Regions from separate parts of the Homo sapiens genome. Here all the other regions are linked to region 1. The links come from fine-mapping of genetic effects on gene expression. A gene starts in region 1. Each other region holds a variant in brackets. All regions are shown on one strand. Distances are between the middles of the regions.

Evidence for each region. PIP is the estimated chance that this variant, and not a neighbour inherited with it, causes the effect.
Region 2: its variant is the best candidate, but not a certain one, in a credible set for the expression of ARHGAP40 in skin (TwinsUK, PIP 0.65).
Region 3: its variant is the best candidate, but not a certain one, in a credible set for the expression of ARHGAP40 in testis (GTEx, PIP 0.81).

Annotation. Positions count from the first base shown.
Region 1 is chr20:38,600,382-38,603,140 of GRCh38, reverse strand. It overlaps ARHGAP40 (Rho GTPase activating protein 40), which reads right to left and starts at 1,332. Exons shown (of 15, transcript NM_001164431.3): 1 at 1,062-1,332. The coding sequence starts at 1,198. RefSeq lists an enhancer at 2,210-2,751.
Region 2 is chr20:38,628,625-38,631,383 of GRCh38, reverse strand. It overlaps ARHGAP40 (Rho GTPase activating protein 40), which reads right to left. Exons shown (of 15, transcript NM_001164431.3): 4 at 2,382-2,457; 5 at 1,734-1,882. Among named protein-coding and RNA genes, the nearest start is that of ARHGAP40, 28 kb to the right of the region's middle. The variant AAGAAAGAAAGAAAGAAAG/G (reference allele first, on the strand shown) is at 1,302.
Region 3 is chr20:38,623,988-38,626,746 of GRCh38, reverse strand. All of the region lies in intron 2 of ARHGAP40 (Rho GTPase activating protein 40), which reads right to left. Among named protein-coding and RNA genes, the nearest start is that of ARHGAP40, 24 kb to the right of the region's middle. The variant G/A (reference allele first, on the strand shown) is at 1,440.

The DNA.
Region 1 (2,759 bases):
TCAGGTCCTTGGGTGGCAAATGAATGGGGCAATGGGGGTCTCCTGCTGCAGGTGTGTTCCAAGCTAGAACACTTTTGGAGGGCAGGGTCTATTCAGATTCTAACATTCCTTTTAAACTTGCAACTACAAGTCTAGGATGTGAATTTTACCCATGCAAGTCCCCAGAGATGTTCATTGCTGTATTGCTTAGAATCGTTAAAAATTGGAACCAACCTAAATGTCCATTAGCCAGGAACTGATTCAAATTAACCAAAGATATCCATAAAGTTGGATCCTGGCAGGCCACTAAAGTGAATGAATTGGATCTTTATGTTACTGACATGTAAATATGTCCATAACATTAATTGAGGGGTTGCAGGGGAAAACCTTACAAGCACATGTAACACAAGAGCCTATTTGTGTAAAACTATACAAGTTTAGGTTTACATATGTCAAAAAGTTCTCCCAAGGTATATGTCAAAACTTTAACAGTAGTAAGTTTTCAAGAATGAACATATGTATTCCTGTACAGTATTCCTGCACTGTTTGACTTTCTATAATAATCAAATTGTAATATGATGTAATCAGAGTGGGGGAAATGACTATTTGAAAATTCTGGTCTGGCTGTCAGTGGCAGGCTGAGCAGGAATAAGGGGTGACCAGTTCTCAGCCGAGGTGACCACACGGCCACACTGACCCAGAAACTTGACCCAGAGACTCCTGAATCTTGAGCCCCTGGGCCCCCTAAGACTCTACACCCAGAGGAAGAGGAAATGGCACATACTGGCGTCACTCACGGTCTCTAAGAATCTGAAAATCAGTGACCCCTGCAGGAGGCCAGTAGCCTGAACCCAGGGCAATGCTGTGTCCCAGGAAGGCTCTGGGTTTGGAGTCCCATGGACTAGGGCTAAAAGCCATCTCCACCACTTGACAGCCAGGTGACCGGGCTCTCCAAGCCTCTGTTTCCTCATCTGTACGATGGAGGAAGATTCTTGCCTCACAGGGATGTTGTGAAGACAGACCGCACATGCCCCTGGTGCATAGTAGGGCCAACTTCCCTCCCGCTCCCGTGACCCCTGTACCTGCAGCCCAGGTCGGCCCAGCGCTGGGCGCAGCGCCTGGCAATGCGGGCCCGCGGGATCCGAGGACACGGTGAGGCTAGGGGCCCTGGGGCCAGCCTCTCCATCTGGGCGGCGGGGAGGAGGGCAGGCTCGGCCATGGGCTGGCACCTCGAGGATCCCGGTCGGTCGTGGTGCTGCCGCCGTGGGGCTGACTCGATCGGCAATGTGAGAGGGAGGAGTGAGGTAGGGCCCCCGTGGCGCACCCAGTTCCCAGACACCCTCATGCAGGACTAATGTTCAGCCTCCTCCTGGGGCGGGGCTGGCTTGGCCGGGGCCACCTACAGGCAGGCACTCGCCGCACACACACACACCACTGAGTCCCACCCGCCTGCACTGGAACTGCGAGGTGGAAACGGCGCCTTTCAAAAACTGTCATGAAATATGATTTGCATGGCCACTATTATTACCTACAGCCATCCCGATTTCAGAGTAAAACCACATGAATAAAGCACCTGGCTACTATGGGTGGAAGAACGTGCTCACGACCCAGGGGTTTTTATCTGGCTGGGCTATTCCCTCTGAGGCTTCTCTGAGCCTCGGTTTCCTCCTCTGTGAAATGGGGATGGTGACATTTGCCAGGAGACAGGAAAAAAGCAAGCAGGAAGATGTCAGGGTGTAAAGAGAGCAGGACCTGGGCACGGGGGCGGGAGGATAGGAAGGGAGCAGGAAATGGGAGTGGCAAAGTGAGGGGGCGTCCGGAGAGCCTCCCGGGATTGGTCTTTTGGCTGGGATGTAAAGGAGGAGGAACTAGCTGGGGAAAGGCTGGGTAAGGGGAAAACCCAGGGAATTTAACCCCCTCTTCTGTAAAATGAGAACTCATTCATTCACTTAGCAAATCTTTATGGAGCTCTGTAGGGGCCCTGGGGGAAGGCGACCAGAGTGTCTGAAAGCAAAGAGCAGGAGAGTGTGGACTCAGCTGAGAGGAGAGCAGAGGCTGAGTGTCAGGGTGGGGAGTGGGAAGGGGTTTCCAGGTGCCAACAAGGACACAAGCCAAGGTGTTGCAGTAGGGCATTTGGGGAACGTATGAGAAGCGCTCCTGCCAGCTTCCCTGGCGGTGTCCTATTCCCTGCATCCATTTTGGACCATGAGCCCCTTCTCTTGCCCTCTGGCCAGGACTGAATGCCATAGACTTCCCCAGATTGCCCGGGCCCGCCCTGCCCTCCTCTAAGCCTCCGGGTGTCAGTGAATCTTTCCAGGAAGCATATTCACCTGTACTCCAAGAAGAGAGGCCCCAGAGTCCTCATCAAGGAGGGCCCCCAAGTCTATGGGTCCCCACAGTCTGAAGCTCTGTTCTGGCCTTAGGGAGGCAAGAAATGGGCCCCAAGAAACTGAAAACAGGGCCCCACGGGAGCCATAGAGCCCAGGAGCATGCATGGTTCTGGCATTAAAGACGGGAAAGGCCTCGCAACACAAAGGGTCCTGAAAAACCCCAAGTTTCAGGTGGCTGTCACTGGCTGGAACCTGCAGACCAGGGCTGTGCAGAAGACCACCCATCCACTTCTCCTGAGCCTCCTCCTGAGGAGGAGACAAGGGAACCATGCCACTGTGAGGCCAAGGAGCTGGGGTCCAATATGTAGGTGAATTGTCAGCCGAAGTGGGTGCAGAACTACTTTGGGAGCCATAGGGAGTTTTGGGTGGGAAACATGGTAGGTGCTTAAT
Region 2 (2,759 bases), 28 kb before region 1:
AAACCTCTTTCATGCCTTTATCAGCAGTGTAAAAACAGACTAACATATGCCACTTCTCTTTTTTTTTTTTTTTTTTTTTAGGTCTTGCTCTGTGGCCCAGGCTGGAGAGCAGTGGTGCAATCATAGCTCACTGCAGCTTCAACCTCCAGGTACAAGTGATCCTCCTGCCTCAGCCTCCCAAGTGGCTAAGACTACAGGCCTGCACCATCACACCTGGCTATTTCAAAAATTTTTTGTAGAGATGGGGTATTGTTATGTTGCCCAGGCTGGTTTCAAACTCCTAGACTCAAGCAATCCTCTCGCCTTGGCCTCCCAAATTGCTGGGATTACAGGCGTGAGCCACTGTGCCCGATCCTACTTCTCTTTCTTTCTATCATATAGTCAGGGAGCAATGAGGGCACTGGAAGCCTTGGGAACAATGCCCTGGGCCAGGGCAGCCCTCAGTAAAATGTTACCTAAGATTGCATCGACTGCATCATCACGTGGTCAAAGAAGAAACACTTCCTTTAGTAATAGAGGGACTGTGAAAGACTATATTTACTCCATGAGAGAAGTCAGAATAGTGGTTATTCTGCAGGGAAAGGAATTACCTGGGAAGGGCATGCGGGCACTGAGGGGGTGGTGGGGTAGGAAGTTTCTTTCTTTCTTTCTTTTTCCATATTACAAGCCATCAAGCAAGGGAGGAAGTTTCTGTACTCATTTGTTGGTATTTACACGGGCATACACACCAAGCTGTACCTGGTAAATATCTGTGCACTTAACAGCGAGTTATAGTTCAATCTTTAAAAACCTAACTATCAATGATTACATCCTATTTGGAAGGAACTATGCTGGGATAACTGAATATTTTGGGAAAAAAGAACGGCCAGGTGCAGTGGCTCACACCTGTAATCCCAGCACTTTGGGAGGCTGAGGCTGGAGGATTGCTTGAGCCCAGGAGTTTGAGACCAGCCTGGGCAATGTAGGAAGAACCTAACTCTAAAAAAAATTTTAAAAATTAGCTGGGCATGGTGGCATGCAACTGTAGTCCTAGCTACTTGAGAGACTGAGGTGTAAGGATAGCTTGAGCCTGGGAGGTTGAGGCTGCAGTGAGCTGGGATGGTACCACTGCACTCCCGCCTGGGTGACAGAGTGAGACCTTGTCTCAAAGAAAAAAAAAAGAAGGAAAGAAGGAAAGAAAGGAAGAAGAAAAGGAAGGAAGGAAAGAAGGAAGGAAGGAAGGGAGGGAGGGAGGGAAGGAGGGAGGAGAAAGAAAGGAAAGAAAGAGAAAGAAAAGAAAAACAAAGAAAGAAAGAAAGAAA[AAGAAAGAAAGAAAGAAAG/G]AAAAAAGAAGGAGGAGGAGGAGGGAAGGGAGGGAGGGAGAGAGGGAGGAAAGAACAGAACTAAAATATTGGGTCTCTCTCTGTCACTCCAGGCACTAAAATTAATTTTAAAAGTAACTAGAAAAACATGTTGATGGACAGTTATGAGCTTGCTGGAGGAGGGAGGGCTTTCTAAGGATAAAAACAAAGAGCATGGAGACAATACTGACAGGACTGTTAGACTGTAAGCATCCTGCTCCCCAGTCTTGATACCCAGCGGTCACTCAGTAAATATTTGTGGTACGAATTAAATGAATGAATGAATTAACAACTTTTGTGCTGGATGCCTGTCAGTGTGGAAGGTGTGAAGAGATGGGTGCTGGTGCCTGAGCACAGGGGGACCTAGCCAACCAGCCCTGTGGACAGCATCCTCACCGGCAGGGAACACTTGCCCCAGGCAGAGGTGCCTCCCCGGGATGGCCTGCTCCTCTGCAGGAGCACCGCAGCTTGTTCTGAGTAGGCAGAGTCCATGTTGAAGGCTTCTTCCCTCCCAGCCTGCTCCTGCAGCCCCCCAGGCTCTGCTGCTGCGGGGCGGGGGAAACAAAGCAGAGAAAGGCAGTGAGAACTGGCTGCCAGGAAGCAAGTGCTTGGGTTCGGGACTTAGGCCCTTAGTCCTAAGAAGTGAGCTCCCAAGCTCAAGTTCAAAGCCCCAGGATCAAATCATTAGGTTTAGGGCTCAGGCTCATTGCCCAGGAAGTGATTTCCTAGCTATGGCCCATTGCCCCCAGGAAATGATTTCCTAGCTAAGACCCTCACTGCCCCAGGAAGTGATTTCCCAGCTAAGGCCAATTGCCCAGGAAGAGAATTTTCCCATCTTGAGCCCCATGGGCCTGATGGCAACAGCTCACTTAAGGGCCCAACCTGTCCCCTCAGGGCTCCTCCCTACTGCCCTTGAGCAGGGAAGGCAGGGAGTCAGCAGGAAGCAGGAAATGCTGGGAGGTGTGCACATTCTCTTACTTCACAGAGCAGCCCTTTATGCAGCCTGGAGGATTCTCAGGGCCCTGGAGAATGAAGACCACTTACCTGGAGGAAACTTAGAGGCCCCGGAACTGAGCTGGGCCCCCTTCATACCGGAGTCGCCATTCTCTGACGACATTTTCTATGCAAATTACAGACAGTGCCCAATTACTCATGTGGGAAGCTGACAATGCTCACACAACCCTGGGAGACAGAAGCCACCCACAACCCCTTTTCACAGATGGAGCCACTGAAGCCCAGAGAGGCTGAGTTACTTGCCCAAAGTCCCACAGCTGCTAAGTCGGGGAATGGGCACTGGGGCCCAAGTCTGGCTGGCTCCAAAGCCTGTGGTTTTAATCACTGCTATGCCACTTCAGAGGTGCTCCAAGAAAGATGATGCCCACAACCTATCAGGCTTCAAGTGTCAGCAGGATACACAGTGAC
Region 3 (2,759 bases), 24 kb before region 1:
CAATCCCTGGAAAACAGAGGTGGGTGAAGGGCCCTGCATGTTCAGATTTTGGACCCACTTCTCTCCAAAGTAATGAACCCACTTATCCAAAATCTGGCAGAGACCACTACAGGGTCACATGGTGTCCCCTTGGGAAGTTGGTGCTGGGTGTTGATGTCCCTTTGGGAAGTCCTCCATATTCAAGACCTTATTTGTGTTGGAATTGTCCCCTCTACTGTGCTTCCTAAGGAAACTCTCATAGTCCCATAGCAAAACCATTAACTGGAATGGGAGGGTGTGTTGAGATTTCAGGATCTCGGGTCTTACCTCCAGGGATTCTGTTCCAGGAGTTCAGGCCTCGGGCCTGAGAATCTGCACTTCGAATGTCTTCCTCAGATTATTCTAATGCAATAGGGTCTTCAGACCACACTTGAGAAACACTGGCCTTATCATGGGGGAAATGGACAAGAGCTCTTACTGGAAATTGAACACATGTGTGAGAGGATTGGTGGGGTGTACAGTTGTACCCAGTGTTGACCCAGTTAGTCAACAAGGTAATAAGTGTTTTAAAAACTCAAACAAAACTGCTTTTATGGCAGCCTGGGTTTTGCAAATAATCCAAGTCTTCCCCCAACACTTTCCCTGCACTTGGGAACCAGAACAGATGCCTCCAGGGCAGTTGCAATGTTGTGGGTCCATTCCTGACTTGTGCTGGCTGGTGGAGGTACTGATTCTATCATGATGCCAGACATTTTTTTGTTTGTACAGGATCCTTTCAATGAGCCACTGTTTCTTGAAATGTAGGCATTCACCAACCACCTTTATAATTTTTATCTGTATCTAATTGTCCCTGTAAAATTCCTTACCAAATATATCCCCTTAATCATGGGCTACATTTTTTACTAAAACACATCTATTTTAAAAGGAAACAAGATCCCCACCATAAATGGAGCATCCAACATCACCTGCCATGAGTAGACATTGATGGGAAAAATAAATTATTAACAATCCCTCTGGTTCAAGTTGGTGTCCGAATAAAAAGAAAAGATGACCAGGCATGGTGGCTCATGCCTGTAATCCCAGCACTTTGGGAGGCCAAGGTGGGCAGATCACCTGAGATCAGGATTTCAAGACCAGCCCGGCCAACATGGCGAAACCCCATCTCTACTAAAAATACGAAAATTAGACGGGTGTGGTGGTGAATGCCAGTAGTCCCAACTACTTGGGAGGCTGAGGCAGGAGAATCGCTTGAACCCAGGAGATGGAGGTTGCAGTGGGCTGAGATTGTGCCACTGCACCCCAGTCTGGGTGACAGAGTGAAACTCCGTTTCAAAAATTAAATAAATAAATAAAAAGAAAAGAAAGGAAAAAAAAAAACCAGTCTTGGCTCCATGCCACTCAGGATCCCTCAGCCCTGTGAGTCTAAAAAAGCTCCTGTGTTTATTTGGTTGCTCAAAGTG[G/A]CTTCTCTCTGACCCACTCTGACTCCACTCCCTGTGTATTGTGGGAAATTAGATTGCTGGCCACATCATGATTCCAGAGAGGCCACATGGAGGACCTCCTATGCAGGGCATCTCCTGAAACCACTTCTAGTGTAACCAGGGATGTTTTTACATTTACACTTGGAGGCACTGCATGAGACTATTAGGCCCTTAGGAGGTCTGCATCACCACGTGGTCTGTTTTGCCAACCAGGGGCAAGCCCAGCTGAATTACATGCCAAACCAGGAAGGGTTCCATGTGGAGCCCTTTCATTCCCTCATCTGCTGAACAAGTAAGGATGGAGGAGGGGAATGTGCTTGGCTCTGTTCTAGGCACTGTGGACACAGCAGTGAAAAGGGCCGATGATGTCCCTGGCCTCATGGAAGTTACATTCTAGTGGGGGTCACAGACACATGCACAGTGAAGTGCACTAGGTAAAGTCAGGCAGTGATCATTGCTGCAGCAACGAACAGAGTAGGGCAGGGGCTAGAGAGTGATGGGGCAGGGGTGCTATTTTGTGTAGGGAAGCTGGTGAAGACCTCTCTGAGGAGGTAACATTTGAGCCCAGTCCTGACTGGAGAGAACAAGCCATGCAGATGCCTGGGGCAAGAGCATTTGAGGCCAAGGGAGCAGAGAGAACCAAAGGACTTGAGGCAGGAAAGTGCTTTTAGGGTCAAGGACCAGCAAGGAGGCCCGAGGACAGAAGTAGAGTGACAGCCAGTCAGGGTGGGAGGAGAAGAGGCAGAGAGGAGGCACGAAGCCAATTATGTAAAGCCTGGTAAGTTATGATCTGGTGGCTTTATTACACGTCCCCAAATTCTTTGACTCTCACCCCATCAAGGGGTGGAGTCTAATTCCCCTCCCCTTGAACATAGCTGCATGCAGGGTAACAGAATGCAGCAGAAGCAATGTTGTCTTTCTTCTAAAGCTGGGTCATAAGCAGCAAGACAGCTTCTACCCAGCTCTCTCTCTTGGTCTTGTGCTTGGAACCCAGCCGCCATGCTGTGAGGAAGCCCAGGCCACATGTGGAGGCCTCATGCAGGTATTCCAGATGATAATCCCAGATGAGGCCCCCTGATGGTCACATCCACCACCAGGCACATAGATGAGAAATCTTTTGAGATGAGTCCAGCCCCAGCTACCATTTGATTGTAACTGCATGAGAGGCCCTGAGCAAGAACCACCTAGCTGAGCCCACTCAACCCCTCCAACAGTGAGGTATAGTAATAGTCATAATAATTGATTATTGCTGCATTATGCTTCTAAGCTTGAGGTGGTTTGTTACATAGTAGTAGATAATAG